Linked DNA regions of Homo sapiens: all the other regions are linked to region 1. The links come from fine-mapping of genetic effects on gene expression. A gene starts in region 1. Each other region holds a variant in brackets. All regions are shown on one strand. Distances are between the middles of the regions. Region 1 holds the start of BBOF1 (basal body orientation factor 1). Region 2 holds the start of LOC105370563 (a long non-coding RNA gene). Region 3 overlaps VRTN (vertebrae development associated).

The links. PIP is the estimated chance that this variant, and not a neighbour inherited with it, causes the effect.
Region 2: its variant is fine-mapped to the expression of BBOF1 in whole blood (INTERVAL, PIP above 0.99).
Region 3: its variant is fine-mapped to the expression of BBOF1 in subcutaneous fat (GTEx, PIP above 0.99).

Annotation. Positions count from the first base shown.
Region 1 is chr14:74,014,059-74,024,879 of GRCh38, forward strand. It overlaps BBOF1 (basal body orientation factor 1), which reads left to right and starts at 5,291. Exons shown (of 12, transcript NM_025057.3): 1 at 5,291-5,476; 2 at 8,858-9,086. The coding sequence starts at 5,421. It overlaps ENTPD5 (ectonucleoside triphosphate diphosphohydrolase 5 (inactive)), which reads right to left and starts at 5,230. Exons shown (of 16, transcript NM_001249.5): 1 at 5,192-5,230; 2 at 1,766-1,872. RefSeq lists silencers at 4,588-4,882, 4,798-4,867, 4,908-5,047, 5,058-5,127, 5,158-5,407 and enhancers at 7,688-7,982, 7,748-8,042.
Region 2 is chr14:74,138,171-74,148,991 of GRCh38, forward strand. All of the region lies in intron 5 of LIN52 (lin-52 DREAM MuvB core complex component), which reads left to right. It overlaps LOC105370563 (a long non-coding RNA gene), which reads right to left and starts at 4,391. Exons shown (of 3, transcript XR_944024.3): 1 at 2,054-4,391. The variant A/G (reference allele first, on the strand shown) is at 6,398.
Region 3 is chr14:74,359,809-74,370,629 of GRCh38, forward strand. VRTN (vertebrae development associated) reads left to right here. Exons shown (of 2, transcript NM_018228.3): 2 at 1-200. Among named protein-coding and RNA genes, the nearest start is that of VRTN, 17 kb to the left of the region's middle. The variant C/G (reference allele first, on the strand shown) is at 5,506.

The sequences.
Region 1 (10,821 bases):
TCTTAGAGAACTTTTAGTCTGTGGCTCTGTTGGGATGGACAACTAATAAAAATGGGATATTTTGCAAATAAAGGAACAGTAGTTAATGATTATTTGTAGGCATAGTGGTGCACGCCTGTAGTCCCAACTACTTGGGAAGCTGAAGTAGGAGGATCTCTTGAGCTCAGGAGCTTAAGTTCAGCCTGGACAACATAACAAAACCCCATTTCAAAAATATATGGCCAAGCATAGTGGCTCACAACTATAATTCCAGCACTTTGGGGGCCTGAGGTAGGAGAACCATTTGAGCCCAGTAGCAACAGAGTGAGATCCAGTCTTTACTCCCCCCCCCCACAAAAAAAAGTTAGCTGGGCATGGTGGCACAAGCCTGTGCTCCTAGCTACTCAGGAGACTGACATGGGAGAATTGCTTGACCCCAGAAGGTTAAGGCTGCAGTGAGTCATGATTGCACCACTGCACTCCAGCCTGGGTGACATAGTGAGACCCTGTCATTCATTAACAAATAAATAAACAAATAATTATCTGTGGTAACATATCTTGTATATAAGTAAAACATTGAATGTTTTAAATTTTTAAAAATTTATCTAAAAGTGATAAGATTAAATCCTTGACCGCCAGGATTTCTTAAAATGCCCCTGCAGAGATGTGAACTAGTCTTAATATCACGAGAAAATGTCAATTTAGTAGAATTCTATATTTGCAGCACATGCAATAAAAAAGCAGGATGAAAGTAACTCCTGGCCAGGTGTGGTGGCTCAAGCCTGTAATCTCAGCACTTTGGGAAGCCGAGGCAGGCAGATCACTTGAAGTGAGGAGTTCAAGACCGGCCTGGCCAACATGGGGGTGAAACCCTGTCTCTACTAAAATACAAAAATTAGCCGGGCATGGTGGCAGGCATCTGTAATCCCAGCTACTCGGGAGGCTGAGGCAGGAGAATTGCTTGAACCTGGGAGGCAGAGTTGAAGTGAGACAAGATTGTGCCACTGCACTCCAGCCTGGGCGACAGAGCAAGACTACCTCTCAAAAAAAAAAAAAAAGAAAGTAACTCCCATAAGAAACAGTTTGGATAATAATATATTTATTCAGGATTCTAAAGGCTATGTAGAAACAAAATCTAAAGTTGTTCACTTAGACTGATCCACCTATAAAGTACCATCTGCTATAAGGTGATCTCAAGAATGATTTATGAAGGGAAACATGGCCTCTAAGGTAAACCCGAATAAAGTTATAGATGAATTTATAAAGTAAACCCAGTTTTGGACCTACTAGAAGAAAAAAGCAGAAGTACTACCCACCCCCCGCCCCCCCTTTTTTTTTTGAGAAACAGTCACACCATTGCTCAGGCTGGAATACAGTGGCACGGCTCACTGCAGCCATGATCTCCCTGGGCTCAGGTGATCCTCTGAACTCAGCCTCCTGAGTAGCTGGAACTACAGGTACATGGCCACCACACCCAGCTAATTTTTGTATTTTTTGTAAAGACAGGGTTTTGCCATGTTGTCCAGACTGGTCTTGAACTCCTGGGCTTAAGCAATCCGTCTGCCTTGGCCTCCCAAAGTGTTAGGATTACAGGCATGAACCACCATGACCAGCCAGAAATTCTATCTATTTTGATACATAATAGTTCTAAATTTTATATATGGCTTGTTGGACAAAATTAACATCACTTGGCAAAAAACAGAGAATTAAATTCAGGAAAAAAAGAAAACCACCATTCAGGAACATTTGAAATACATTTATAAATTTAAGCTAGTGGAGATATTACCTTACATCTGGATACAAGTCCTACCTAACAGCACCATAATGATCTTGTCTGTATGAGGATTCAGCCAAGACACTCCACATTTCTTTGTTGACCAGGAACAAGGAAAACTGGACAGAAAAAGAATTACAAAACCAAGTCAACAAAACATGAAGTGGCTTATTCCAAGTTTAAAAGCATTAGTGTTCTAAACAATGAAACAAGGAAAATTTATTTAGTAATAATTCCTGGAACTTCATAGTAAAGGCACCTACCAGTAACTGTGGAAGGAAATGCTACCAGATAAACTACTAAATAGCAACTTCCTACTCTACTATCTGTACTATCAGTTGTTGCTCACCAGCAGATGACAGTAACAACATCCAGTTCTTTGGTAGAAAATGAGGGGATTCAGAAGAATGTAGACTCTATATCCACCTCTACCAGAGTATGAAATCTTGGCATTTCCCTGAGCCATATTCATGTCACAACAGCTTTATCTACAAAATCAAACTTAGTCAATAAAAAATATATATAATACAATAAAATAAACTAGGCCAAGTGTGGCGACTCATGCCTGTAATCCCAGCACTTTGGGAGGCCAAGGCAGGAGGATCACCTGAGCTCAGGAGTTCAAGACCAGCCTAGGCAACATGGCAAAACCCTGTCTCTACAAAAAATACAAAATTAGCCAGGCATGGTGGTGCATGCCTACAGTCCCAGCTATGCCAGAGGCTGAGGTGGGAGGATCACTTAAGTCCAGGAGGTCGAAGCTGTAATGAGCCATGATCCTGCCACTGTACTCCAGCATGGTTAAGAGTAAGACCCTATCTCAAAAAAACCATCAAAAAACCCAAAAACCAATAAAAGAAACTATAAAGTACTATAACTAAGGTACTACGCATACATTAATAATCTTGTTATAGTCAAATTTTTATGTTCATACATTAATCTGTAAGCCTATGTTCAAATGAGGAGTCTTGGACTGACTTTCATATTATAAAGTTACCAATTTCTAGAATAAATTCCAAATATACAGCCTGTGACAGAAGATGCCCTACTCTCTTTTCTGCAGCTTATCAACAGTGTGCTTTTTCAGAACCTTACACATACAAAATTAATGGTAACTTTATAGATTTTACATCAGAGATAAACTCTTCAATATATGGCGATTCCGCCTATGGACTCACGGGAGTGTGAAAGTATACCAGAAATACACTCAGAAAAAGCTATGATCGGCCAGGCGTGGTGGCTCACGCCTGTAATCCCAGTACTTTGGTAGGCCGAGGCGGGCGGATCACCTGAGGTTGGAAGTTCGAGACTAGCCTGACCAAAATGGAGAAACCCCGTGTCTACTAAAATTACAAAAGTAGCCGGGCATGGTGGCGCATGCCTGGATTCCCAGCTACTCGGGAGGCTGAGGCAGGAGAATTGCTTGAACCTGGGAGGTGGAGGCTGCGGTGGGCCGAGATCGTGCTATTGCACTCCAGCCTGGGAAACAAGAGCGAAACTCCATCTCAAAAAAAAAGAAAAGAAAAAGCCATGATCATGCTGGCAGATGGTATGTATAATAAGGTTTACGCCAGCCTGACCAACATGGAGAAACCCTGTCTCTACTAAAAATACAAAATTAGCCAGGGATGGTGGTGTGTGCCTGTAATCCCAGCTACTCGGGAGGCTGAGGCAGGAGAATCGCTTGAACTGGGAGGTGGAGGTTGCGGTGAGCCGAGATCGTGCCATTGCACTCCAGCCTGGGCAACAAGAGCAAAACTCTGTCTCAAAAAAAAAAAAAAAAAATTTTACAGCCGGGGGCGGTGGCTCATGCCTGTAAATCTCAACACTTTGGGAGACCAAGGCGGGTGGATCACCTGAGGCCAGGAGTTCAAGACCAGCCTGGCTAGCATGGTGAAACTCTGTCTCTACCAAAAATACAAAAATTAGCCTGGCATGGTGGCACGCACCTATAGTCTGTTACTGGGGAGGCTGAGGCAGGAGAATTGCTTGAACCCGGGAGGCAGAGGTTGTGGTGAGCCGAGATTGCGCCATTGCACTCCAGCCTAGGCAACAAGAGCAAAACTCTTGTCTCAAAAAAAAGGTTTACAGCCGGGGCGGTGGCCCACGCCTGTAATCTCAACACTTTGGGAGGCCGAGGCAGGTGGATCACCTGAGGCCAGGAGTTCGAGACCAGCCTGGCCAGCATGGTGAAACTCCATCTCTACCAAAAATACAAAAATTAGCCGGGTGTGGTGGCATGCACCTGTAGTCCCACTTACTGGGGAGGCTGAGGCAGGAGAATCGCTTGAACCAAGGAGGTGGAGGTTGCAGGGAGCCGAGATGCCCCACTGCACTCCAGCCTGGGTGACAGAAGACTCTCTCTCAGAAAAAAAAAAAAAAAAGTTTACAAGGCTTATCATTACCAAATCGGCATGTTCCCTCAGAAGAAACAGAAATTCAGAAACAGAAACTATGCAAGTGGGAAACAAGGCGGAGGGGAGTAATTAGAGGTCAAAGACATCGGGAAGGAGTGTACGGATTAAGTCCTCCCTAGAGAAATGGTGACGAAGGATCTACAACCACATTTAAAATAAACTTTTTAATTTGAAATGGAGTATAACAGAGCAGAGCTTCAACCACAAGTCTCCTAACTATTGGCTTGGCACTCAGAATACCGTACCTTCCTTAATGACTCACTGACTGACTCTCATTGAAAAATGAGAATACTTGTGAGTACACTCCTTTTCAGAGGTGTATTCGGGATTTCAGGAGTCGGGGAGGCAAGTTGAAGAGCTTCCAACTTTATGCAACTTTCAGGAAAGAAGGCTGCGGACCGGTATTAGCAAATGGAAATCCGGGGGGCGGTCGTGGGCAGGAAGTATCGGCCACACAGGACCTAGTGAGGCCGAGGACCCTGCTCCCGACCTCGGTGGCAGCACTCCCCTCCCCGCCCGGCTCCCTGGCGTGCCGCTGCTCTTCGGAGGCTGGCAGCCTCGCCCTCAACCACCGCCCTCGGGAAAGTCCTCGACTGCCTATCAAAAAACATTTGGCCTGGGACGTCCGCTGGCTGCACTATCCCTTACAGAATCAGCAAGGGTGAAAAGCCAGGAAAGAGATGCAACCCAAAGGAGTAAGGCAGTGCCGGGAGCGGCAGAAGCGGAGCGGGGGCGAGGGCAAGGTAGCCGCGGCCACGCTGGCTGCGGCATGGAGACACGGGAGGAACGGGACCCGCGGGCGGCACGGGAAAGGGCTGCGGCTCAGACCACTGCGGCGGGACGGGCGGATCAGCGGGGATCTAAGTCTCCTGAGGCAAGGGCGCCCCGACCGCAGCGACTCCTGACACACCCAGGCCGCAGGACGAAGCGCTACCGCCTGGGGCTGCCAGCTCCCGCCTCCCGCCCGCAGAGCCCGGGCCCCACGTAGAGGATCCGGCGCCGCCGACACTCGCACACTCACCGCGCGCGCGCCACCCTTGCGCGGCAGCCCGCCGCCCTCGGCGCGACCTCCGCCCCACCCCGCGCGCCGCGGCGCCTGGGCTACGTCACGGGCGCGTGCGCTCTCCGCGCGCCGTCAGCGGCGCGGGTGGGGCATTGCCAGCTCGGCGTCCCGGTTCCCTTGGAGACAGAGCTGGCCAGGGCGGCCGCGGCTGGGCAACTACGACAGCGGAGCCCCTGGGGAAGCCAAGATGCCGTCGAAGGGAAAGGACAAAAAGAAAGGCAAGAGCAAAGGCAAAGACACGAAGTAAGGAGAAGCCACCCGAGAGTCCCCTCTCCCTGGGCCTGCCTGGGATTTCGGGTCTGGGGCTGGCAACCTGGCGCCCCCCGCGCCGGCCCACTCGGACCCTCTCCCCGGCTCTCCCGGCTTGTGAGGATTACAGCTCCCATGTCCATAGTCTGGCAGATCTCTACTATGTGTTCAGATTATCTTAAACGTGTAGAGGATGTATAAAGTAGTTCCTTGGGCCTTTTCAGAGATCTCTTTTGGTTCAAAGGGGACACCTAAAGTATTTTACCAAGTTGGATAATTATTGAGGTTTTCCCAAACTGATCAGAGCCACTGAGGTGGGTAATGTTCTAGCACTAACCCCTTACAGGCCTGGAGTTGCTGCTAGATTGCTACTAGCCCTATTGGGGGACCCCGGTGGTTTCTGGACACGTTGGAGTCATACGTGGTGTCCAGCAACAACACCATATATGGGAACACAGAGTTGGCACCAAACTTGAGATGTTTGTAAAGTAACTTAAGAGAGTAATTCATGCTCAATACAGAAAGTTTGGGAAACATGGGAAGTACCAAAAGAAAAAACAAAAATCACCTGTAGTCTCATTATCCAAAAATAAACACTACTATATTTTGGAGTATTCTTTTTTAATAAAACGATAGCCCAATGTACATACTTATATGTGGCTTTTTTCTTCCCATTTGTTAATGTAAGTATTCTTTTATGGTATTTTTTTTTTGTTTTTACATAACTGCACAGTTAGTCTAGCCCTTAAAGTGCCAAGGGCTTATCACATTCCTAGAACTCACTAACATATGTTTTCAGATTTTGACCATGCTTCTACAGTACACATTTGAACAATGAGGAACACTAAGGGTAAGAGACCTTATTCCTTGGATTTTCCATGACCCATTGTTTGAGAAACCTGGCTTTGTTTCTACAGTGAGTATCAGTGGTCCTATTAGAGTGTCTAATTTCTTGCATCAAGTACTTTTTTTTTTTTCTTGACACCAAGTTTTGCTCTTGTTGCCCAAGCCGGAGTGCAATGGCACGATCTCAGCTCACTGCAACCTCTGCCTTCTGGGTTCAACCAATTCTCCTGCCTCAGCCTCCCGAGTAGCTGTGATTACAGGCACCCGTCACCACGCCCAGCTAATTTTTTTATTTTTAGTGGAGACAGGGTTTCACCATGTTGGCCAGGCTGGTCTCGAACTCCTGACTTCAGGTGATCCACCCGCCTCGGCCTCCCAAAGTGCTGGGATGACAGCCGTGAGCCACCATGCCCTGTCGCATCAAGTACTTCGAGCCACTCAGACCTGATACCTGGATGGTCGTAGTGAGACAGTGTATCACTAGTGCCTAAATCATGCCAGAAAGGGACATCAACAGCTATAACAGGCTGAGGGGTTGGGAATGGAGCTGGCCTTAATTTGAAGAGAACAAAAGGTGAAAGTGGGACTTTGGTTCTCTCCACTGCAAACCCATTACCTCTGTGGAAGAGGACTGAGAACCAGAGGTAGGAAAGTGGATGTGGAGGGTGGCAGTATAGAAAGGTCCACATGTACATATGTGTGAAAATATTTAGAATTCAAATACAGGTGAAATATTCTTAAATATGTACATATTTATATATCATGGTACCTACCATATATAAGGGGGAGTGTTTTGTTAATGCTTATACAATAAATATTTAGAAAAATCTCTTCCTTTACCACTTTAATCTTTGAATCCATCCTTTTTCCTCTCCACCTCTATATAAATGATTATGGTTTCTCAGGCATCCTTAAAGCCCGGTGGGTGGGGCATCGTGGCTCATGCCCAGCACTTTGGGAGGCTGAGCAGGGGAAGATCACTTGAGCCCAGGAGTTCAAGACCAGCCTGAACAACATAGGAAGACCCTGTCTCTACAAAAATTTTTATTAAAAATTAGTTGGGCATGCTAACTCATGCCTGTAGTCACAGTTACTTAGGAGGCTGAGGTGGAGGATCGTTTGGGCCTGGGAGGTTGAGGCTGCAGTGAGCTGTGATGGTGCTACTGCACTACAGCCTGGATGACAGAGCAAGATCTTGTTTCAAAAAAAAAAAAAAAGTCCGGTGAACTGTGGCACCAGCTGATAAACTATTTAACGTATTTGCCCTAGTGACTTGACTTTTTGTCCAAGACCTAGCCCAAAACAAAACAAAACAAAAACACCATCCTGGCTAACACGGTGAAACCCCGTCTCTACTGAAAATACAAAAAATTAGCCGGGCCTGGTGGCGGGCTCCTGTAGTCCCAGCTACTCGGGAGGCTGAGGCAGGAGAATGGCATGAACCTGGGAGGCGGAGCTTGCAGTGAGCCGAGATCACGCCACTGCTCTTCAGCCTGGGTGAAAGAGTGAGACTCCGTCCCTCCCCCAGAAAAAAAAAAAACACACTCAAAAGTGGAGGGTAAAGTGGGTGGGAGATCACAGTTATACTACCAATGGGTATCATCATGCAGAAACTGAACAGAGATAATGGGTTTGCAGTGGAGAGAACCAAAGTCCAGCACTGAGTGAGTAGGAATAGAAAAGATAGTTTAACTACAGGAGAATCAGGCTAGGGCACTGGTTCACACCTGTAATCTCAGCACGTTGAGAGGCCAAGGTGGGAGGATACTTGAGCCCAGAAGTTGGAGACCAGCATAGGCAACATAGTGGGACCCCATCTCTATTAAAAAAAAAATAAATATGGGAGAATCAAATAAGTAAATGAAAAGGTATAAAAACTGCCCAAGCGCAGTGGCTCACACCTGTAATCTCAGCACTTTCGGAGGCTGAGGTAGGAGGATCACTTGAGCCCAGGAGTTCAAGACCAGCCTGGGCAACATGGCAAAAACTCATTTCTACAAAAAGTACAAAAATTAGCTGGGCATAGTTGCATGAACCTGTAGTCCCAGCCACTTGGGAGGCTGAGGTGGGTGGATGGCTTGAGCCCAAGAGGCAGAGGTTCTGGGGAGCCGAGATCGTGCTACTGCACTCCAGCCCGGTGACACAGCCAGGCCCAGTTTCAAAAAGAAAAAAAAAAGATATGAAAGCTTTCTGAAATGAGTTTGGCTTATCCTGTCTTTTCCCTTTGTTTTACCAGTCTTTTCGAGTTATGCTCCAGGACTCCCCTCCTCCAGGAAGAGGCACTTACTTAATTATCTTATGTGAATACAAGTGAATATGTATTTCTTTTTTTTTCTTTTTTCAAATGTGAATATGTATTTCTTATTAACTTATTCTTCCAACAATATTTGATCATGTGTGCCAGGCAATGCCAAGCAAAACAAATAAAAAAAGAGAAAAATTTAATAGTAATATAATAGAGTTATATACTATCTGCATATTAGAGTTGTATAAATAGTCATATACTGTCAATATCCTCTTCCCATGCAGGAAGTTAATAAAAACAGATGAATCTGTGGTGGACAGAGCCAAGGCCAATGCCTCCCTTTGGGAGGCCAGGTTGGAAGTCACAGAACTCTCTAGGATTAAGTATCGTGATACTTCACGGATACTGGCAAAAAGTAATGAGGACTTAAAGAAAAAGCAATGTAAAATGGAGAAAGACATAATGTCAGTATTAAGTTACCTGAAGAAGCAGGATCAGGAGAAAGATAATATGGTAGGTAGGTAGAAAGCCTCCTTGGCCTCATTAACTACCTCTATGGTGATGCTGATGTGGTTATGTATTTCAAAGATTTTTAATTCCTTGAAATCTTAACATATACTTAAGACATTTCAATTGACCTTAACTCTGTTTGAAGCAAGACACTTTTTCAGAATGGTTTTACTGTTATCGGCTCTCTTTTATTTTCAATCCTTGTTGCATGTTTTCTTGTCTGAAGCAAACAGAGATTGATGATCATAAGGGAACTTTATGATCTACTTTATTTTAAGGATAAGAGCATGGTATGTGATCTATATATTTTTTGATGCTGATTTTTAGTTTTAAAAATTTGTAAAGCAGTTCACTGATAATCCATGATAACTTTCTGAACCCAGCAAGTTGAATCTTTATTTTTATTTTTGGCCAGTTGAATCTTGTATCTTATTGTACCTTATTAAAGTGTTGAGAGTAAAGCTATCATTTTATATTTGGAAGAAAAAAGGAGGCCGGGTGTGGTGGCTCACGCCTGTAATCCCACCACTTTGGGAGGCTGAGGTGGGCAGATTGCCTGAGCCCAGGAGTTCGTGACCAGCCTGGGCAACACAGTGAAACCCCGTCTCTACTAAAATACAAAAAATTAACCGGGCATGGCTGCATGTGCCTATAGTCCCAGCTACTCGGGAGGCTGAGGCAGGAGAATTGCTTGAACCCGGGAGGCAGAGGTTGCAGCGAGCTGAGATCATACCATTACACTCCAGCCTGGCAGCCTGGGCGACAGAGCGAGAGACTCCATCTCAAAAAAAAAAAAAAAAAAGAAAAGAAAAGAAAAAGGGAAGGGAACTAACATTTTGGAGCCACTACAATGTACTATACTGGGTGCTTTACCTCTCTTGATTCTTTTACTAACCTCCTATTTAATTATTTTTATGACCCCATGTAGCTATAATATTGTTATTTCCATATTACAGATGAAGAAATTGACTTTCAGAAAGGACAGGTAACTTGCCCAAAGTCACACCCCTAGTGGGTGTTAAAAGTGGAAATTCAGGCTGGGTGTGGTAGCTCATGCCTATAATCCCAACACTTTGGGAGGAAGAGGCTGGAGGATAACTTAGCTTAGGAGTTCAGGACCAGCCTGGGGAACAAAGCAAGACCCAGTCTCTACACAAAGTAAAAAATAGCCAGGCGTGGCAGTGTGCACCTGTAGTCCCAGCTACTCGGGAGGCTAAGGCGGGAGGATCACTTAAGCCCAGGAAGTTGAAGCTGCAGTGAGCCATGGTCATGTCACGGCAGTCCAACCTGGACATCAGAGCAAAACTCTGTCTCATATTATTATTACTTTATTATTATTTTTGAGACAGGGTCTCTCTCTATTGCCTGGTCTAGAGTGCAGTGGTATGATCACGGCTCACCACAGGATCGACATCCGGGCTCAGATGATCCTCCTGCCTCAGTCTTCCAAGTAGCTGGGACTACAGGCACGCACCTCCATGCCTGGCTAATTTTTTGTATTTTTGGTAGAGACAGGGTTTCGCCATGTTGCCCAGGCTGGTCTTGAACTCCTGAGCTCAAGTGATCCACCCGCGTTGGCCTCCCAAAGTGCTGGGATTGCAAGCATGAGCCACCATGCCTGGCTGATTTTTTTGTAGTTTTTGTGGAGATGGGATTTCGCCATGTCGCCCAGGCTAGCCTCGAACTCCTGGGCTCAAGAAATCCTCCCAACTTAGCCTCCCAAAGTGCTGACATTACA
Region 2 (10,821 bases), 120 kb after region 1:
CCCTTTCTGAGCATGTGTTCCGCACATTCAGAAAACAGAGGGAAAAGTGAGGTAAATAATCCAGGGAACACCTCTTGGAAGAGATGAAACTTGAAATAGAATTTGATGTCTAATATTTGTATATAAGAGGAAAGAATACACTTCAGAATGGGAAGGAATTTTTGAGAATGGATAAGATATTTTGGGGGAAAATTGATAAATTGTAACAGACTAGAGAGATGAGTCAAAGTGATTTCAAGATTTTAAGCCCTTGTGACTAGGAGAATACAATTTAGTGTGGAACTGAGATATGCATTATAAAACTTCAGTTTTGTTTGCTAAGGTGTTGTTAAAGCATCTTTGAAGGCCAACGTGGCATGATCACTTGAGGCCGGGAGTTCAAGACTAGCCTGGACAGCATAGCGAGTCTCCATCTCTACAGAAAAATTTAAAAATTAGCTGGTGAGGTGGCTCAAGCCTGTAGTCTCTGCTACTTGGGAGGCTAAGGTGGGAAAATCACTTGAGTCCAAGAGTGAGGCTGCAGTGAGCTGTGATTGCACCCTCACCCCACCCCCTATCCTCTGCACTCCAGCCTGGGAGACAGAGTGAGACCCTGCCTCAAAAAAAAAAAAAAAAGGCATCTTTGAAATGAATAACTTAACAATTTAAACTACTATCAGGGTTATATAGGTGAAAAGGTTGTGAATATATAGTCTGTTAATTATGATAAAGTGCAACCATATATAACAGGAAATCTAAAATAATTGTGGCTTACACAAGGTAGCATTTTTTTTTTTTTTTCAACAAAAAGGAAAGCTGGAGGTAGATGCACCTAGCAGGTAGGGCAGTTCCAAAGGTGTCATCAAGGACTAAAGTTTCCATCCTTCCATCCTAAATATACTTTATACACGCTAGAGCTCTAGCCATCATGCCTGAATTGTAGGCAAGAAGGTGGGGTAGGAATTTAATTTAAAAAAGGGATCCCACACAGCTGACACTTTTCTTTTTAAGCAGCCTTCCTGGAAGTCCCACAGAATTTAAATCACCTGGCCTGGCTGCAAAATAATGTAATTGTTTATTCTGAGCTATAATTTTGGTAGCAAAAAAGTTGGCTATCTGTTAATACAGAGGAAGAGGGAACATGGATCTTGGAATAGGCAGCCAATATTCTCTGCCATAGCAGGGGACAAGAGACCTTTGCAAGAGCAGTGGGGTCAGTAGAAGGATGTGAGGTGATGTGTTGAGAAGGAAGCTCAGAATTAGTGATTTTACAGGTGCATGTATGGACTTAGTGATCTTGTTTTCTTTACCACATTAAGCTTGTTTGGTGCTCCATAAATGGGTGACTGCGTGCCCAACATCTCCTGTTAAAGGATCTTGCAGACCTTTTTTTTTCCCCCTCCCTTTGGCTATTTCTCCAAGTAAATAAATATTAGAAAATATCAGCTCTTTTTCATCTTCAGGGAACAAGCCACTCAAGAAATGGTCAGTTTTTAAAATTGCTGAGCAGAACCTGCTATAGATATTTCCAGTATGGAGAAGAGAAACACTTGGATTTCTGATTTGTGTATGTTTACCAAAACAGATTCTAAGATATAAGAAAAATATTGCTAGAGTAATATTTTCTTTTATGCAGCTAGCATAGTGAGTCCAAGAGTTTATTTTTATATTCACTGTGTTTCACATAGGCTTGATTATAATAGGCTATTGGTGTTGTTGAATGGATGATTGAATTATTTCTGAAGCCTGTATGAGGTAGACTGTGGTGATATTTAGAAGTTAAAGGCAGTCTATGGTTTAATGTAATAAAACATGCTTCATAGCTAGTAAAAAAGCTATCCCTTTTATAATATATAGTGTATAGATTATATAATTAATATAAAGCCACAATAGCTTTATTACTAATTTAAAATTTAACTCCTAAGAACACTTCAGCAAAAACACAAAAATAGATTCACTTAAAAGCTTTTTAAAAATAACTTAGCCCAAAACACCAAATAAGTCTAGTAGAGTTTTGCTGCTTTAAATGTAAAAAGCAGCATTTTACTCTTAGTATTTAAAGGCGACTCCTTACCTTCTTGTAGCACTTTGTCTACTGCAGAATGTGCATGATTTTGCCCTAGTTATGGTGACTGGATTCTCATCCTCTCAGTAGGATCAATATTAAGCTAGCCTTCTTTACCTCCTCGATCCATATTAAACCTGTCTTGGAAAGAGTCTGTTTATTGGATAATATAGCTACACCGGGGCTCTATGACAATATCTTTTGCTGCCTCATTAACTCTCGAGCATTAGAACAAGATAAAAATGCCCTAAAGCCTCTTATCTGATGTCTGGTGTAACCTGCTGTAAGCAGGATTGCCATTAGTTTATGTTAGAAATCAAATGACCCTCTCCAGTGCAGGAAGTACTGATTAAACCTGAAGTGTCCCCGGAGGACTCTACAGCTGTCAGAGGGGTGGTGACTGTCCGTCACGAAAAGGGAAATCTGGGCCAGAGGTCCCAGTGGGGCGGTGCTTTAAGAACCCGCACGTGGCTGCCCCAGCTGTTCTGCTTTGCCTAATGAATTGTTTTACAAGAAGAGGCTGGGTATTATCATCACAAGCTGCCTTCCTTAGGGACTGGAGCAGGCCAAATAATAAGTAATGTTAGTGATGGTAATTGAAATGTGATGGCTCTCCTGAGATCTTTATGGCCCTGGAGCTGGTTGGCACTTGTGGATTGCCTTGTCCTAGCAAGTGCCTTATTTTTTTTCTGTTTTGTAATACCGTTGTGTGCGTTTTTCTCTTCTGTCCCCCATGGAAATTCATTAATAAAAGCTATCGTAGGAACATTACAATGATGTTAACTACAAAAGGAACAGTTTTAACTTTTTCATTTCAATTATCAAACACTGTAATGGTAAATAAGTGGTTTCTGGAGGAAACCACTGTAAAGATCTCTCTGTGCTTTTAAAGGAATATGTTAAACTTATACAAATAATACAAGCTCTTGATTTTAAGAATATTTTAAAATAACATGAAAGGATATAAAGTGAAAAGTAAAATCCTTATCTGCTGAATTTATGAGCGGTAACTGCCACGAACAGTTTCTCCATGGATGCTTCCAGACATTTTCTGTACATAGTAAAGTTTATATACATTACCATACACAGATGCAATCATAATATACATACTGTTTTGTGACTTATCTTTGACCCCACAACATGTCTTGGATATCTTTCCACAGCAGTATACATAGATCTGCTTCACTGTTTTCCAAATGCTTCATAGGATTTCACTATATGGATGTACCAATTCAAGACTCTTTGTAGATAGTTTGACTTGGACCTTATAAATGAAGCCTTACCATACAAGCAGGTTGCATCCACTGACTTGTGTTCCATAGTTCAAACTCTGCTTTTACATGAAGTGATTTTCCTTACTTCAGGAATGTTACATTTTAGTCCAGTATTGTTTTAAAATAGGAAATTCTGGAGGTAAAGCTTTTAGGGGGGAGGTAGTGTGAGTCTTGTCATGCATCATTAGCCGGACATATGTGTAGTGATATGCACCCCACTGTGTGCTTTTAATTTGTTGCTTAGTTAAATGAGAAGTATTCTGTCCCAGATAGGTGGGGAAAACAAATAGCCTTTGATGAGTGTTGTCCAAGGCACTGACTGGCGGCTTCCTCTAAAGTTGAATGAGTGTTTTCTCCCCTAATTTTCTACTTCAGAAGTTCCAGGAATCAAGTTTTGAACGCATTAATGGACTTGGGAAATGATTTGTCAGCACGTGGAAATGAGGACTTAGGTTTCTTGTGTAACAGCTTGGCTAACAAAGCAAGTTTGTGCCTCATGAACTTTAAGGGCCTTGCTGGGAGTGGCAGTGTGATGAATGAAGCAAAGCAATTTTCCAGGAGCATTTCAGGTCAGTGATAGGAGAAATCAGTTGTCTTCTCAGTCAAACAGAAACTTAATTTTAGTTGCATCTGTCTTAATAAGAGAATCTGTATGCAAATTGAATGGTAGAAATTCCACATCTGCCAAAGATGGGAGCATTGCAAGTCTTTTTTTTAACTCGAAGCTCTTTAGTCCCATTCTCAACACTTCAAAATTGAGGTTTGACCAAATATTGAAGAGATGTCATACTACTAAATTGCAAAATGCAAACTAGTTTTGTTTCAGACTTTTTATACAGTGCTTTTCTTGTCCTTGATGTTAGTCATTTGAATTGATGCCCAATCTTTAATTTAATAATTGGAGGCTATTATTAATAACAATAACTGATTTACTTCTTGTCCAAGCCTTTATTAGATTCATGGGATGTAGGTATACAGAGATTTCTGGGGCTGTTCTGGGCTATTGGAGATCTTGTAGACCTAAACTATTCAAAGCAGTAGCCACTAACTGCATGTGTTTGTTTGAAGTTAAATTAATTAAAAATAAAATTTAAAATCTAATTCCTCAGTCACTCTAGGAAATGCTCAGTAGCCATGTGTCGCTAATGACTACCACATTGGACAGCACTGCTCTAGACCAAAGGTCAGCAAACTATGGCCTGCAACCTGTTTTTGTATTCTCTGAGCTAAGAATGTTTTTTACGTTTTTATGGGGGCTGTAAAAGTAAAACAAAAACAAAAAACGGAAGAATCTGAAACAGACTGAATGTGGCCCACAAGCCTAACATAACATCCTTACGTCCCATTCATACTTATGTTATGTTAGGCTTGTGGGCCACATTCAGTCTGTTTGGTTCTTTACAAAAAACCTTTGCTCAGCCCTGGACCTATGCTTCCTCTTGGTGACGTTTTGGCTTTCTGATCAAATTGGGTTAGGACTTTCCATAAGTCATCAGAAGACTAAATCTAATAAGCAAATAGACAAATTTCAGATAAAGTTTCTTACTATAGATAGACTATGGAATGAGTCCAGAGCATACACAAATCAGTTCCCTGAAGCTAGGACAAGCGGGATGTGCATTTGAAATAGGAAAATAGTTTATAGTATAAATTATCAATTTCCTACAAGCTTTGTGCATAACACCTATAGTTTAACAGAACATCTTTCTTATTTTGTACACTATTTTGTGTCTTCTGTGTTCTATACTCTCCTATCTTACTCTGACAGAAACAGAATGAGCCTGGGCATAGTGGCTTATGCCTGTAATCTCAGCACTTTGAGAGGCCAAGGTGGGAGGATCACTTGACCCCAGAGTTCGAGACCAGCGTGGACGACATAGAAAGACCCTGTCTCTGCCAAAAAATACCAATAAAATTAGCCAAGTGTGGCAGTGTGCCCCTGTGGTCCCAGCTACTTGGGAAGCTGAAGTGGGAGGATGCATTTGAGCCCAAGAAGCAGAGCCTGCAGCGAGCTGTGATTGCTCCACTGCACTCCAGCCTGGGCAACAGAATGAGAAGCCTCTGTCTCCACATAGTCCGCCAAAAAAGCAGATGCACTTTTTAACAAAGAATTTACTGTGAAGTTTTTTTTTAACTATACAAATTATAATTTTTTCATATTTTTAATTGATACATTATAATTGTACATGTTTATGGGGTACAGTTTGACATTTCAATTCACATATGTTGTATAAAGATCAAATCAGGGTAGCTAGCATATCTATTACCACATGCATTTATTATTTCTTTGTGGTGAGAACATTCAAAAGCCTCTCTTCCAGCTATTTCATAATATGTGATACCTTACTGTTAACTAGTCACCCTGCTGTGCAACAGAACACCAGAACTCCTGTATAATTGTAATTTTGTGCCTGTTGACCAAACTTTCCTCATCCTCCTCCCCTGCCCTCTTCTCCCCTCTTTCCAGTTTCTGGTAACCACTCTGCTTCTATGATCTCAATTTTTTTTTTTCTTACAAGATTCCACATATGAGTGAGATCATGGCAGTATTTGTCTTTCTGTGTCTGGCTTATTTCACTTAACATGATGCCCTCCAGTTTCAACCATGTTGTCACACATGACAAGGTTTTATTCTTCAATTTTTTTTTTTTTTTAAGACAGGGTCTTGCTCTGTCACCCAGGCTGGTGTGCAGTGGTACAAACACGGCTCACTGCAGCTTCGACCCTGGGGTCAAGAGATCCTTCCGCCTCAGCCTCCCAAGTAGCTGGTGTGGGAGCCACACCCAGCTAATTTTTTTTTTTTTAATTGGAGCCATGGGGGTTGGGAGGGGTCTCACTTTGTTGCCCAGGCTGGTCTCGAACTCCTGGGCTCAATCAATCCTCCCACCTTGGCCTTCCGAAAGGCAGGGATTACAGATGTGAGCCACTGTGCCCAGCCTCAAATTATTTTTAAACCATCACATTATTTCAGTCTCTCCTAGGAAGAATGCAGCAAAAAGATTCTTTTTCTGGTATTCTCAACATCTGAGAGATTGTCTTCCCTTAGCAAATGTAACTCTAACAAATTCTTATTAAATAT[A/G]AGGTCTATGAAATCTACCTATAAAATGAGCACCTGGCACTTCTGTGGTAAGTCAGCTTGTCGCTTTCAAGACAGGACCTTGACATTCATGAGGTAACTGCAAATTTCCAAGTTTGTGATAACTCATAGTGTATCATTTTTCCTCTAAAATGTGGTAAAGTACAGTTAAAAAAATTGTTACCGTTTGGGCCTTTGGTATGAATTATTCTATAATTAGAAGTAAGTAAAGTATTCTCCCACTAAAATAAATGTTACACTGCAATATGTTTAATTACAAATAGAAATGTTAACTGGAACTTGTCTGAATCTTCAAACTCAACATGTCAGATGATCACGGGTTGTGTGGTTGAGATCATGAAGTGTGTACTAAGCCACAAAAAAAGTGACACTTCAACAATAACCTTGAAAACAAGGCACGTGATAGAAGAGATAAGGGAGATCATTGTGAAACAGTATTCTGAGAGGGAACCTTTGTGAAGTGATCGCTTCTTTCTAAAGAACTCTGAGTGGTAGCTGTAGTTGGCTTTTATTCCATGGTATGAAATCAGTGCAGATTTTAACATTTAAAGCTCTATCCATTGATCATAAGCAGTTATGGTGTCAATTAGCTGTTTCTCCATTAGAACGTTGACTAAATGTATGAAAACTCAAAAAAGTTCTTCTAATTCTTCAGTGTCATCCCCTTTGCCATTCTTTGCCAACTCATCTGTGAGTCTTATTGTTTTTTCAGTTCTTCCATATTACTTTTATGTGTGCCCTCCAAACCTTTGCCAACCTCTTGCCTCTCCAGTATTAACAGTGTATTCTTCATTGCCTGTGAAAATAATCTTAAAGTTATACACTGCCTTCTTCCTTACAGTATGCCAGTAAGCATCCACTTTTGTAGATCACCTGATTTGTAGTAAAAGATTCTCTATGGAATCCTTACATAATCAAGGATGTACCTCTTCTAAAGCTGCCTGTTAATAAGTTTGCTATCTTTGTCCATGGCATTTTTTGATGACAATGAAAGTGTGGCAAAGTCATATGCTTTGAGCTTGTCTCTTACAGTCTGGTCGAAAAGTCAGAAGTATTCAGAGGAAGGAACATCACTTAAGGATTTAGAATTGTAAACTATAGTAATTAAAGATAGCCTTCCACATTTTCCACAGTAGGGAGAACTTGAAATTCAAGCTTAGACATTTCTGGCACAAAGTGTTTTGTTTTTTTGTTTGTTTGTTTCTCGGCCCTTCTAAGAGACAAAACATGAAATGTTTTTGAAACCAGTCCAAAACACCTTGCCCTGTGTCTGAGGGTGTTTTTTTCCACTGGACTACCAATATTTGGAAAGACATTCCTTTCATGTCTTGGGGTTTTCAGATTGGTATGGAAAACTTGTTTTTTCATAAAGACTGCAGATTCTATGACGTGAAATAGTCAAGTCTGATCTTAAACTCCCTCATAGAGCTCTGTGAGGATATCTAGGTATTTGCAGGTTTCACCACTGAATTCCCAACATTTACCATACTTGGTACATAATAGATAGGTGCTTACTTTTCCCCTTTCATTATTTTTTCCCAAATCACATTTTGGTCATGAATCCCATGTTTCCTGAATCATCCTCACTGCCTTTTCAGAGAAGTATGTATTTTTCTCTCTATTGATGAACATGTTTGATAAAAGCTGGGATACTTGTTAAAACGTTCCCACACACGGCTGGATACATTATGGAACTATTCATGTCATATATCTGTGCCAACCATAAGAAAAATATGCCTTCCAAATTCCTTTAGTTCTCTTCAGTTTCCATAAAATGTTATTTTTATCATGTGTAAGAGTACTGTTAGGGAATCTCGTAGCCATGGTGGGATGCAGGTACTGGGTGGACCACTAGGTTCACTAGCCAGCTAAGTGAATTGCTCTTCCAGTGTGTGCTGTTCAGATTTGTTCCTAAGCAAAATTGCAGATAAACTCCTGTGTTACATTGACTTTCATGCCTTCATAGTAGAAAGCCCACAGATATTAAAGACTTGAATTCAGGTACTAGTAACAATTATAGATTGATTGTTCAGAATACCTTGGTTTCCTTCTTAAGCATAAAGTACAGAAAAATCAACACTGACAAGTTAATCCTAAAAATCACATGGAAATAATTGCAAGGGACCCAGAATAGCAAAACAATCTTGAAAAAGAACAAAGTTGAAGGACTTACACTTCCCAGTCTCAAAACCTACTACAAAATTACAGTAATTAAGACAGTGCAGTAGTGGCATAAGGATAGCCATATAGATCAATGGAATATGATTGAGAATCCAGAAATAAACCCCCATATTTACAGTTAATTGGTTTTTGACAAGGACACCAAGATCATTCAATGGGGGAAAAGTAGTCTCTTTCAACAACTGGTGCTGGAAAACAATATCCACATGAGGCCAGGCATGGTGGCTCATGCCTGTAAACCCAGCAATTTGGGACGCCGAGGTGGGTGGATCACTTGAGGTCAGGAGTTTGAGACCAGCCTGACCAACATGATGAAACCTCATCTCTACTAAAACTACAAAATTAGCTGGGCATGACAACGCACCCCTGTAATCCCAGCTACTTGGAAGGCTAAGGCAGGAGAATCGCTTGGATGCCTGAGGCGAAGGTTGCAGTGACCCGAGATCGCACCATTGCATTCCAACCTGGGCAGTAAGAGCGAAACTTCATCTCAAACAAACAAAATATCCACATAAAAAATAAAATAAAATAAAATTGGACCCTCTACCTCATATCATATAAAAAATTAACTCAAAATGGATCATGGACCTAAATATAAGAGCTGAAACTATAGAACATAGGCATAAATCATGACCTTGAATTTGGCAGTAGTTTCTTAGATATGATACCAAAAGAACAAGCTCCATTACAATTAAACACTTCTGTGCTTCAAAGACACCATTAAGAAAGTACTTGGGTAGGACAGGTGTGGTGACTTACGCCTGAAATCCCAGCACCTGTGTTCATAGTAGCATTATTCACAATAGCTAAAAGGTGGAAGCAATCCAAATGTTCATTGACAGGTGAATGGATAAACAAAATGTAGTAGATACATGCAATGGAATATTATTCAGCCTTTACAAAGGAAGGAAAATCTGACACACAACCTTGTGGGACATTATGCTAAGTGAAATAAGCCAGTCACAAAAAAACACTACGTAATTCCACTTATGTGAGGTAATCAGAGTAGTCAAATTCATAGAGACAGAAAGTAGAATGGGGGTTGGGAGGAATGGGGGAGTATTGTTTAATGGTTACAGAGTTTCAGTTTTGCAAGTTGAAAAAGTTCTGGAGATTGGTTGCACAGTGATGCAAACACACTTAATGCCACACTAAACTGTACACTTAAAAATGGTTGAGATGGTAAGTGTTATGTATATTTCACAATTTTAAAGTGGGGGAAGGTGACTTTTATGCTATGTGAATTATATCTCAAGTTTTTAAAAGTTATATGAGAAAAGAAGAAAAAAGAAAACAAAACCTATCTAGGAAGCCCAGAAGATTTGACAGTCTATTATAGGCCTGCTCCTAATCAAAGGCCTTTTTTTAATGTGTAGTGATTTTATATTCCACTTTCCTCAATTCATGAATAAGTCCCTTCTAACTCTCCTCTTCCCTTTATTATTTCGCAAAATAGATTGGAAATAATCTCCTGATCCTCCTCAGTACTTATGTTAACATCTGGGACCCTACCAAAGGTTCACATCTATTTCTTAAGATTTTGATATTATCATAATAAGTAAATATTTATTATGTAAACCAATGTGCTAGACCCTGGGTGTCAAAAATACATAAGCTCCTCTCATGGCACTTACAATCTGACTAGAGAGACAAGGCAAATGTATAAAAAGTTTGATCACAGTACAAGAGAGCATGTACTGATCCACTTGAGGAGCATAGAAGTTGACAGAAATGAGAGATTACAGTAGGCTAAAGGTGTTTGGAAAAAGTCTTATAAAAAAAGTGGGATATAAACGAACAACAACAACAACAAATCCTACATATCAACAGTGGCAAGTTGGTTTCCTTCTTGCTGTAAGATTCCATGTAAAATGTAGTATTTTATATAGCAGTTGCTATTTGATTAACCTGCAAAAATTATTTTTTTCTCATATTCATTTCCCTTGTTAGTATCCCAGTTTGTTAGGTTAGACAGAAAAAAAAAATTGCTTGATTGTCTATTCCTCCACATATAGATCAGTATGTTAAGGGGGCGAAGTAACTTTACATCATAATTTGGCCACTGGGCCATGCAACAGCCTGTCTAGCTTTACCCTGCTAAGCCTAGAAGTGGCAACAAAGAGATAAGAAAGCCACCATCAAGTGTCTGTGGCCTAGTATGAATTTGACCTGCACCTTGACAATGATTTTGATTTCAGCTTTCCATGGTGAATGGATTTACTACC
Region 3 (10,821 bases), 350 kb after region 1:
TCCACCTGCTGGGACCCTGCAGTCCTCGGCCAGCCTGGCTGTCAGTTGGGGATTCCACCTTTCTGCTGAGCGTCTTCTCGGAGCTGGAGGCCCATCTTCAGTGAGAGATCACAAAGCGGCCAGGCAGGTGGGAGACTGAATTTGCCTTGTTCGAGAGTAACGTTTGAAAACCAAAGAAATAAAGTGATGCAGTGCCCACAGTGCTTGGTCTCTGGTATTTGTTTTGCCAGGATGTGATTGCCCATTCCCATGCTCCCCTTTGGCTTAAGGGGACAAGAGTGACCTTCTCTTTCTCGATGGGATGCACTCAGGTCTAGAGCTTGGGGGATGAAAAGAGTTATTCTGGGGACTCTGAATTGGATCTAGAAGTGACCTTGGGTGCTTTTCCAGCTGAAGGGTGGGGCTCTGGCTACCTGGAAATGCCCTCCCTCCCATGGGAGAAACCTGGCGTTCCCAGGTGGGGAAGGGGTTGCTGCCACCACAGGTTGGCTCGACAGGGGCCCACTGTGAGGCTGGCCCTGGGCCATGGAGGCCAGGCCAGCACCTGGAGTCAAGTCTGTGCCAGACATTCTATTTAGTCCTTGCAATGTGCTCGGGCAGGTAGGCCCAGTCCTGTGACTGGGACACTCTAAGGACACAGCCTTAGAGTGGCTAATTTGCATGCTCCCTCTGTCTGGTGGGACAAGGGTGAGGGCAGCCTGCTGTAATGAGCAGCAGCAGGGATGTAATGGGAGCTTTAAGCCCAGGCCTTTGCCTGTTTGGTGAGGGAGGAATCATTAGGGAAGAAGTTCCCGTAGGCCCTTCTTCTGTCTGGGTTTCCTGCAGTGGCTGGCATCCTTGTGCTCCTGGGGAGTCATTCTTGCCTCTGCTTTTTATTCACCCCACATCCAATCCATCAGCAAGTCCTATTGACGCTGACTCCAAATGATACCCAGAACCCTCTCTCCACTCTACTGCCATTGTCTCTCCTGGCCCACATCACAGCTTCCTACCCCATCTCCCTGCTTCCCTGCTTCCACTCTTGCCCCTATACCCCTATACAACCCATTATTTTTATGATTTTTTGAGACAGAGTCTCGCTCTGTTGCCCAGGCTGGGGTGCAGTGATGTGATCTTGGCTCACTGCAACCTCCACCTCCCAGGTTCAAGCAATTCTTTGCCTCAGCCTCCCAAGTAGCTGGGATTACAGGCACCTGCCATGATGCCTGGCTAATTTTTGTATTTTTGGTAGAGATGGGGTTTCACCACCTTGGCCAGGCTGGTCTTGAACTCCTGATCTCGTGATTCACCCACCTCGGCGTCCCAAAGTGCTGCAACCCATTATTTTTATTTATTTATTTTTTGAGTCAGAGTCTCTCTCTCTCACCTAGGGTGGAATGCAGTGGCACAATCTCAGCTCACTGCATCCTCCACCTCCTGAGTTCAAGCAATTCTCATGCCTCAGCCACCCATGTAGGTGGTATTATAGGCACGTGCCACCATGCCTGGCTAACTTTAGCCTTTTTAGTAGAGACGGGGTTTCACTATGTTGGCCAGACTGGTCTCGAACTCCTGACTTCAAGAGATCTGCCTGCCTCGGCCTCTCAAAGTGCTGGGATTATAGACGTGAGCCACCATGCCTGGCCCCTATACAACCCATTCTCCATAGAGCAGTGAGAGAGTTTATGAAATCGGATTTTCACTTTCCTGCCTAAAATGTGTCCGTGGCTTCCCTTTACTCCTAGAATTCCTTGTGCTGCTTTACAAAGCCCAGACAATCTGTCCCTGACTCTGCCTCTTGCTCCATGCTGGCCCTAACCCACCACGCTACAACCATACCAGCTGCCTCTGGTCTTGAACACTTGTTTCTGCTCTAAAGGCCCTTGCATTTGCTGCTATGGTCTAGAATGCTTTTCCCTGTCATATTTACATGGCAGACTTCTTACCATTCAGATCTCTGAGGGTCACCATCACACCACAGTTTTCATTCTCATGGTGTTTACTCCCATCTGATGTTTCTCTTGTTTATTTGTTTATTTGATTATTGCCTACCTCCCCAGCAGAATGTAAGCTCCATGAAAATCTGGGCTTTTCCCTGACTTGCTCACACCACTGTGTTCCCAGCAGGTAGATTCGTTCCTGGCATCATAGGTGCTAAAATGTGTTGAAAGAAGGAATGAGTGAAATGGGGTCTCTATCCCTTTCCTGCTGTTTTCCTTTGGGATTTGGTTTTATCAGACATAATCCCCCTTCCTCCATATTTCTTGTGGACCATTTTTCTGCATCCCCACAGCTACCCCCTAATCTATACCAGCATCTGTTCCTCATCTTTGATACTGGAACAGTTTTCAAACTGACTCTGCCTCCACTCAAACTATCCTAGTTCTTCCTGACAGGCCAGAATGATCCTACTGAAAGTCTGACTCACTGCTGGATTTCCCGTTGGCCCTCAGTACAAAATCCTAACTGTTTTGAGGCCCACCTGATTCTGGCCCCTACTTTCCTCTCCGGCTTATTTCTCCCCACCAACCCTCATTCAGACTGACCTTTCCCCCTGCATTCTTTTCTCCCTCCCACAAGTGGCATTGTTGAGGCTCTGTACTGAGCCCTGGAGTCTTCACTGAAGCCCCACCACCAATGTAACCATTTGACATTTGATGGAGGGGTTGGACTGGGAATGTTACCATCTGGCCTGCAATAGCCACATATAGCCAGCAGATGGCAATCGGGTGCAGCAACAGACAAAGTCTCTCTCTGGGTTCCCAATCCGCACGCGGCTCTGATTTCCCAACCCCCGGTGTATCCGCCTTACTGCTTTGGCCATCCAGGGTGGTAGCAACTTCCTGAGAACTACCCTTATCGGGGTTCTGGATTCTCCTATTTGCTCTTTTGCCTGAACTCTCAAACCAGAGCAAATCCTCTGATGCCTGGAGGAGTATCTCACAGCGGGGTCTAAAAACCACCTGGATCGCAGTCTCCGTGGGAACTTATTAGGAGCGTGAATTCCAGTGCCCCATTCACACCTGCTGACTCCAACCTGAGACATTGGAGAGGTAGTATATGCACACGGATGAGTTACATAACCTTGCTGTGCCTCACTTTTTCCATCTGTAAGATGGGATTACAGTAATGCCTATAGGATAGTATCCTGCACATAGTGTTAGATAAGCCCAGTTTCAGAACCTCTGGGAGTCTGATTCCTGTTTTCTAGGAGGAAGTCAATACCCATGGATACTGTCGTTCAAGGTTACCCTCTAGGTTAAAGACACTCCTGTCCCAGGACTGAAAGGTGTTTTTGCCAGAGGCTAGCCCTGAGCCCTGAACTCACAGGCAGAAATTTTAGCTTCTGTTGGAAGAAATTAAGATAAAAAATGGTATATCAATATTTATAGATTTGGAAAAGGTTTCATAAGTATGGATAAGTTATTCTTGTGTAGAAAAGCTGTTTCCTTTCTAATCTGCTTAGAAAGGCAGGGATACCAAGTGGTGACCGTATTTGCTAAGAATACTTCATGCTGATTTTTGAAATCAACATCTGTTGAACTTATTTGTATTTTTCTTCACCATTTTCTATCTCTGATGCAGTGTAGAAAGTCCAGTGAAATGAACAATGTGTGAATAAAGGAAGAAAAAAATGTGAGGTTAACTTTGCATCTTCTTCCAACATTCTGTGTATTTGTAATGTAACAAGTTCTTCTAACAATTTTTTTTTTTTTTTTTTTTTTGAGACGGAGTTTTGCTCTTGTTGCCCAGGCTGGAGTGCAGTGGCACAGTCTTGGCTCACTGCAACCTCCGCCTCCTGGGTTCAAGCAATTCTCCTGCCTCAGCCTCCTGAGTAGCTGGGATTACAGGTGTGCACCACCATGGCTGGCTAATTTTGTGTTTTTAGTAGAGACAGGTTTTCACCATGTTGGTCAGGCTGGTCTTGAACTCCTGACCTCAGATGATGTTAAGATTTAACAATCTTAAATATAAAAGCTTCACCTCCCCCCACAAAAAAATCCAGTGAAACATTGAATAATTTAAAAAAATTATCTCCACATTTATCCCCTGGAGGAAGAGGATTTTGGTGGAGATCAACATAAGCTGCTCCCCAAATGTTTCTCTGGAGTCCAGCACTCAGGCCCCAGGGCATTGCTGGTGGCTTCTGGGTCCTGAGCAGCCACCTCATATCCCAACTGCCACTCCTGGATGTCCCACCATTGCCTCATTCTCACTGCCTGCCAATCTGGGCTCATCCCCCCCATTACCCTGGGACACACTTCTCTGAGTATCTTTCACCCCAGTTTCTGCAGCATCAGGTTCTTAGTTAAACTGTCCAGAAAGCTAAGAGTTGTCCTAGAACGTTCTCTCTCCCATACCTCTATCCCAGCAGGACCCTAGAAAAATGGCGGGTTTCACAAGGTTGCACACTGCTGGGTAATCACAGGGAAGAGAATTCCATTGGTCCAGCCCATCCCTGTCCCATCCTTTCCCCTGAGCACAGCTTTCATGCCAGGTCACACCTGAGGCTACTGGACAAGTTTTGGCCAAGGGCTGTGTCGGCCCTGCTCACAAGGGATCTGGCAGATATAATAGGTTCCTATCTAGCAGCCTCTGAGAGGCTGAGCTGTGAGCTGAGGAGACAGAGCCGTTTGTATTCAACTCTTGTCCTCACAAAGCCCTCAGTTTGCAGCAGCCGTGGTGTGACACAGTGTGATAGAGGCTTCCATATGGAATGGGCAAAAAGTGCAGCAGGCTCACAGGAAGCCTATGCTGGCTGATCTGTGTCTGGTACCTTGTGGCCTATTTTCCGAGAATGAGCCAGCTCTTTGAGTGTCGGCTGCCTGGGAGTCTCTGGGAAATGCCTCAGTTGCCCCTCAGGTGACCCTAGTCACTTGTTGTAAAAGACCCATTCCAGTTTGGTGGCTGTCACAGGAGGATGGGAAGCTAGGGGACAGGGCTCGTGCCACCAGGCAGTTGTCAGGATGGGGCTGGAAGGCTGAGAAGCAAAGCCCTGAGAGTGTGTGCAGGGAAGCCTGCTCCTGCCCCTGGCTGTCCGCTTTCATTGGCCTGATATCTCACCAGAACCTTCTCCTAGTGTGATTGCTTCTCCCCAACCCCAGCCAGTGACACCCAGGTTACCTGTAGGGTGTCACTAGTGGGTTGGTAAGTGTTCCCATTGCTAGTTTATCTCATGGAAGAGGAGGAGGGAAGGTTTTAGATAAGAAGCAGCAGAAAGTAGGTTTAATGGTATAAAAATTTTTCCATGTGGCCAGGAGCGGTGGCTCTCGCCTGTAATCCCAGCACTTTGGGAAGCCAAGGCGAGTGGATCACTAGGTCAGGAGTTCGAGACCAGCCTGGCCAATATGGCGAAACCCCATCTCTACTGAAAATACAAAAATCAGCCAGGTGTGATAGCGGGCATCTGTAATCCCAGCTACTCTGGAGGCTGAGGTAGGAGAATCACTTGAACCCAGGAGGCGGAGGTTGCAGTGAGCTGAGGTCGTGCCACTGCACTCCAGCCTGGGCAACAGAATGAGACTC[C/G]GTCAAAAAAAAAATTTTTCCATTAAAAATGACTTTGAAAATAGCATGAAATCCACTTAACTCTAGGAGGTCTTCCCTGCCAGGCAGAGAGCTGGGGGAACAGAGATAGGAGGGCAGCCAGGAGGAGACTGGGCAAGCAGCTGCTCATGTATGACCCTCTGCCTGCGGAGACCACTGGGTTGGCAGAAGGCAGAAAGGTCACAGGGGGTCCTCGCCAATGCCTCACCCCACTCCATACTGCAAGCCCCAGGGCCAGGAGGAGGAGAAGTGCAGGCTGTGGGGTCAGGGAGGTATTTGGGGAGCATCCAGGCTGAGTGGCTTTTGGTTCCCTTTCCTTCACCTGCCTCCCTCCCCCGCTGCAGCTCATCCTGGCTCAGACAGTTGCCTCTGCAGTATGGCAGACTGCAGGTATTGACAGTCAAGATCAGTTTCTAGGCTCCTTAACTGGGCAGAGTTATCTGTTGTCACTTAAGTTAGAATTGGGAGGGTGGGCCGGGCATGGTGGCTCACGCCTGTAATCCCAACACGTTGGGAGGCTGAGGCAGCCGGATCACCTGAGGTCAGAAGTTTGAGACCAGCCTGGCCAACATGGTGAGACCCCCGTCTCTACTAAACATACAAAAATTAGCCGGGCATGGTGGCAGGTGCCTGAAATCCCAGCTACTCAGGAGGCTGAGTCAGGAGAATTGCTTGAACCTGGGAGGCAGAGGTTGCAGTGAGCTGAGATTGCACCACTGCACTCCAGCCTGGGCAACAGAGCGAGACTCCATCTCAAAACAACAACAACAACAACAAAACCAAAAACAAAATTGGGGCACAATGGCACATGCTTGTAATCTTAGTGCTTTGGGAGGCTGAGGCAGGAAGATCGCTTGAAGCCAGGGGTTCAAGGCTGCCAGTGAGCTATGACTGAGCCACTGCACTCTAGCCTGAGTTACAGAGTGAGATCTTGTGTCTAAAAATAAGAGAAAAAAAAAGGCCAGGTGCGGTGGCTCACGCCTGTAATCCCAGCACTTTGGGAGGCTGAAGTGGGTGGATCATTTGAGGTCAGGAGTTCGAGACCAGCCTGGCACACATGGTGAAACCCAGTCTCTACTAAAAATACAAAAAATGAGCCAGGCGTGGTGGTGCATGCCTGTAAACCCAGCTACTTGGGAGGCTGAGGCAGGAGAATTGTTTGAACCCAGGAGGCAGAGGTTGCAGTGAGCTGAGATTGTACCACTGCACTCCAGCCTGGGAGAGTGAGACCCTGTCTCAAAAAAAAAAAAAAAAAAAGAAAAGAAAAAAAGCTGGGTGAAGTGGCTTGTACCTATAACCTGTAATCCCAGCACTTTGGGAGGCCGAGGCAGGCAGATCACAAGGTCAGGAGTTCGAGACCAGCCTGGCTAAGATGGTAAAACCCCGTCTCTACTAAAAGCACAAAAATTAGCCAGGCATGGTGGTGCATGCCTGTAGTCCCAGCTCAGGAGGCTGAGGCAGAAGAATCACTTGAACCTTGTAGGAGGAGGCTGCAGTGAGCTGAGATTGTGCCACTGCACTCCAGCCTGGTGACAGAGCGACACTCTGTCTCCAAACAAACAAAAAAACCTCGAATCTAATACCAAACAAACAAAACACACACACACACAAACACACACACACACAAAAGAAAAAAATAGAATTGGGACACAACAAGGGAGGCATAACTGAGTTGCATGGCAGTATCCAGGACAGGGGCTGATGGCTGCAGGATCCACTGATCCTCAGAGCTCATCTTCATGGAAATAGGAGGGAGCCAAGTATCTTTGACTTGTGTTTTCTTTGTTTTGCTTGTTTTTTAGACAGAGTCTTGCACTGTCGTCCAGGCTGGAGTACAGTGGCACAATCTCGGCTCACTGCAACCTCCGCCTCCTGGGTTCAAGCGATTCTCCTGCCTCAGCCTCCCGAGTAGCTGGGACTACAGGCGCACACCACCACGCCTGGCTAATTTTTTGTATTTTTAGTAGAGACGGGGTTTCACCGTGTTAGCCAGGATGGTCTTGATCTCCCGACCTCGGGTGATCTGCCCACCTCGGCCTCCCAAAGTGCTGGGATTACAGGCATGAGCCACCTTGCCTGGCAAGACTTTGGTTTGTTTGTTTATTTATTTATTTATTTATTTATTTATTTATTTATTTATTTATTGAGACAGAGTCTTGCTCTGTCATCCAGGCTGGAGTGCAGTGGCACGATCTTGGCTCACTGCAAGCTCCACCTGCCGGATTCACGCCATTCTGCTGCCTCAGCCTCCCCAGCAGCTGGGACTACAGGCACACGCAGCCACGCCCGGCTAATTTTTTTGTATTTTTAGTAGAGACGGGGTTTCACCGTGTTAGCCAGGATGGTTTCGATCTCATGACCTCGTGATCCACCCGCCTCGGCCTCCCAAAGTTCTGGGATTACAGGCGTGAGCCGCCTCGCCCGGCCTAAGACTTTGGTTTTTAAAGTCAGTTTTTCTTCAGCCAGGAATATGTTAAGAGAGGAAACAGGGAGGCAATGTTGTTGTGGGGCAAAAAGGAGCAAGACTGCCTTTCCTGGATTTCCGAAAGGGCCTCTCAAAAGTCTCAGTGCTTACCTGGGTATGGTGGTGCACTCCTATAGTCCCAGCTACTTACCGGGAGGTAGGGGGCTGAGGTGGGAAGATCACTTGAACCCTGGAGATCGTACCACTGCTCTACAGCCTGGGCGACAGAGTGAGACCCTGTCTAAAAATCAAAAGTTGCAGTGAATGAGCAGAGAAGATGGATGGGGAGAAGAAACTGAGGCCTATAGCCTGGAAAAACCCCATGCGAGTAGGATCTTGATACAGCCATTTGGCCCTCACACTCTAAGGTCCAAAACCATTTAAAATGTTAGCTTCTGGCCAAGCGCGGTGGCTCACATCTGTAGTTCCAACACTTTGGGAGGCCAAGGTGGGAGTATGGCTTGAGTCCAGGAGTTTGAGACCAGCCTGAGCAACATGGTAAAACCCCATCTTTACGAAAAAAGTTAGCCGGGTGTGGTGGTGTGCACCTGTAGTACCAGCTACTCAGGAGGCTGAGGTGGAAGGAATACCTGAGCCTGGGAGGTCGAGGCTGTAGTGAGCTGTGATTGTGCCACTGCACTCCAGCCTGGGTGACAAAGTGAGAGTGAGACCCTATCTCAAAAAAGTAAATAAATAAATACATAAATATTAGCTTTCTTAAAATTGCCATGTCATGTGCCTAGCTCGGAATTGGCTAGGATGGAGTATTCACACCACAGGAATTGGCAAGTCCCACCAATCGGCCAGACGTGCTGGAGCCCTACCCGATAGAAGACTCCTCCCTATGTGTTTATGTAGCTGGGTCTTGCCAGTCCTTCAACTCAAAGTAACGTCACCCGCTCAGTGAGGCCCTCCCAGACCCCATCTCAAGTTGGTCTCAGTCACTGTTGCCACGTCCTTTCACTGTTGTCATCACCATTTCAACAGTCGTTTTCTGGGTTATTGTCCTTTTCCTCAACCTGAAATGCAGGAACAGAGGCCCCCAGAGAACAGGAACTCGTCTGACTTGTCTACTGCTTATCCCTCTGGCTAGAACAGCGCCTGGCACATAGTAGGTGCTCAAAAAATAGTCACTGAATGAAGAAGTGAGTGTGTTTGGAGCGGAAGGCTGAGTGTTTCCGCCTAGGTCCTGTGACAGAAACCCCTGTGTCTGTTCTCATGTAAAGGCCGGTCAGCAGGGTGAGAGGGAGCCGGTGCCTGTACTGACCTGCTCTTGGTCAGGCCAGACTAGGGATGAGACAGGAGCGAGAGGAGGAGGCAGAGGCAGAGAATAGTCCCTTTGGTCTGGAAGCTGCTGAACTGGATGGGAATGAGCCGAACCCATTGGATCCTTGTCTTGGGGATAGAATTGCCACATTCGGCAAATAAAAATAGGGACTACGCAATTAAATTTTAATTTCAGATCAACAAATAATAGATATATTTTTTGCCCTTGTTGCCCAGGCTGGATTGCAATGGTGTGATCTCGGCTCACTGCAACTTCCACCTCCCAGATTCAAGTGACTCTCTTCCCTCAACCTCCCGAGTAGCTGGGATTAGTGTGCCACTATGCCTGGCTAATTTTTTTTTTATTTATTTTTTTTATTAGAGACGGGGTTTCACCATTTTTGTCAGGCTGGTCTCGAACCCCTGACCTCAATTGATCCACCCACCTCGGCCTCCCAGAATGCTGGGATTATAGGCGTGAGCCACTGTGCCTGGCCAACAAATAATAATTTTTTAGTATGTATATGCTCCATGCAATATTTGAGACATACTAAAAATTATTCATTATTTACCAAAAATTCTGATTTGATTGTATTTTCTCTGGCAACCCTACCTGGGGAGTCAGTGGTGTGCTAGTAAGTGCTCCCTGGGTCCTCTGCTCTCATTAGCTTCCTCTACCCTCCCCACCAGTCAGCTTTCTCTGGGTTGTGAGAAGATGGCAGGGGATGCCCCCCCAGCTCCATCTTCATCCCCATGTGTCCAAACAGACCTGAGCAGCTTGAGTGTTGTTCTTCTGAGTAGCTTTCATCTGAGGCCTGTGTAGAGCAAGCTGTGGGCTGGACACAGACCTCACCTGCGGCTCAACATTACAATTACATGGGTGCTTTTAAGATTGGCTCTGCCCAGGCCCGACTGCACACCAATTAAATCAGAATCTCTGCATGGTCTCATTAACCTGCCCTATGGTTTTAAATATCTCTAGATACTCCTTTTTATGAGACAGAGTCTCACTCTGTCTCCCTGGCTGGAGCAGCCTCGACCTCCTGGGCTCAAGCGATCCTCCTACCTCAGCCTCCTGAGTAGCTGGGACCACAGGTGTTCACCATTACTCCCAGCTAATTTTTTTTTTTTGAGACACAGTTTTGCTGTTGTTACATAGGCTGGAATGCAATGTTGTGATCTCGGCTCACTGCAACCTCTGCCTCCTGGGTTCAAGCGATTCTCCTGCCTCAGCCTCCTGAGTAGCTGGGATTACAAGCACCCGCCACCACGCCCAGCTAATTTTTTGTATTTTTAGTAGAGATGGGGTTTCACCATGTTGGCCAGGCTGATCTTGAACTCTTGACCTTAGGTGATCCACCCACTTCGGCCTCCCAAAGTGCTGGGATTACAAGGGTGAGCTACTGTGCCCAGCCATGCTCAGCTAATTAAAAACTTTTTTTTTTTTTGTAGAGACGGGAGTCTCAATATGTTGCCCAGGCTGGTCTTGAACTCTTGGGCCCAAGTAATCCTCCTGCCTCCCAGCCTCCCAAAGTGCTGAGATTACAGGCATGAGCCACCACACCTGG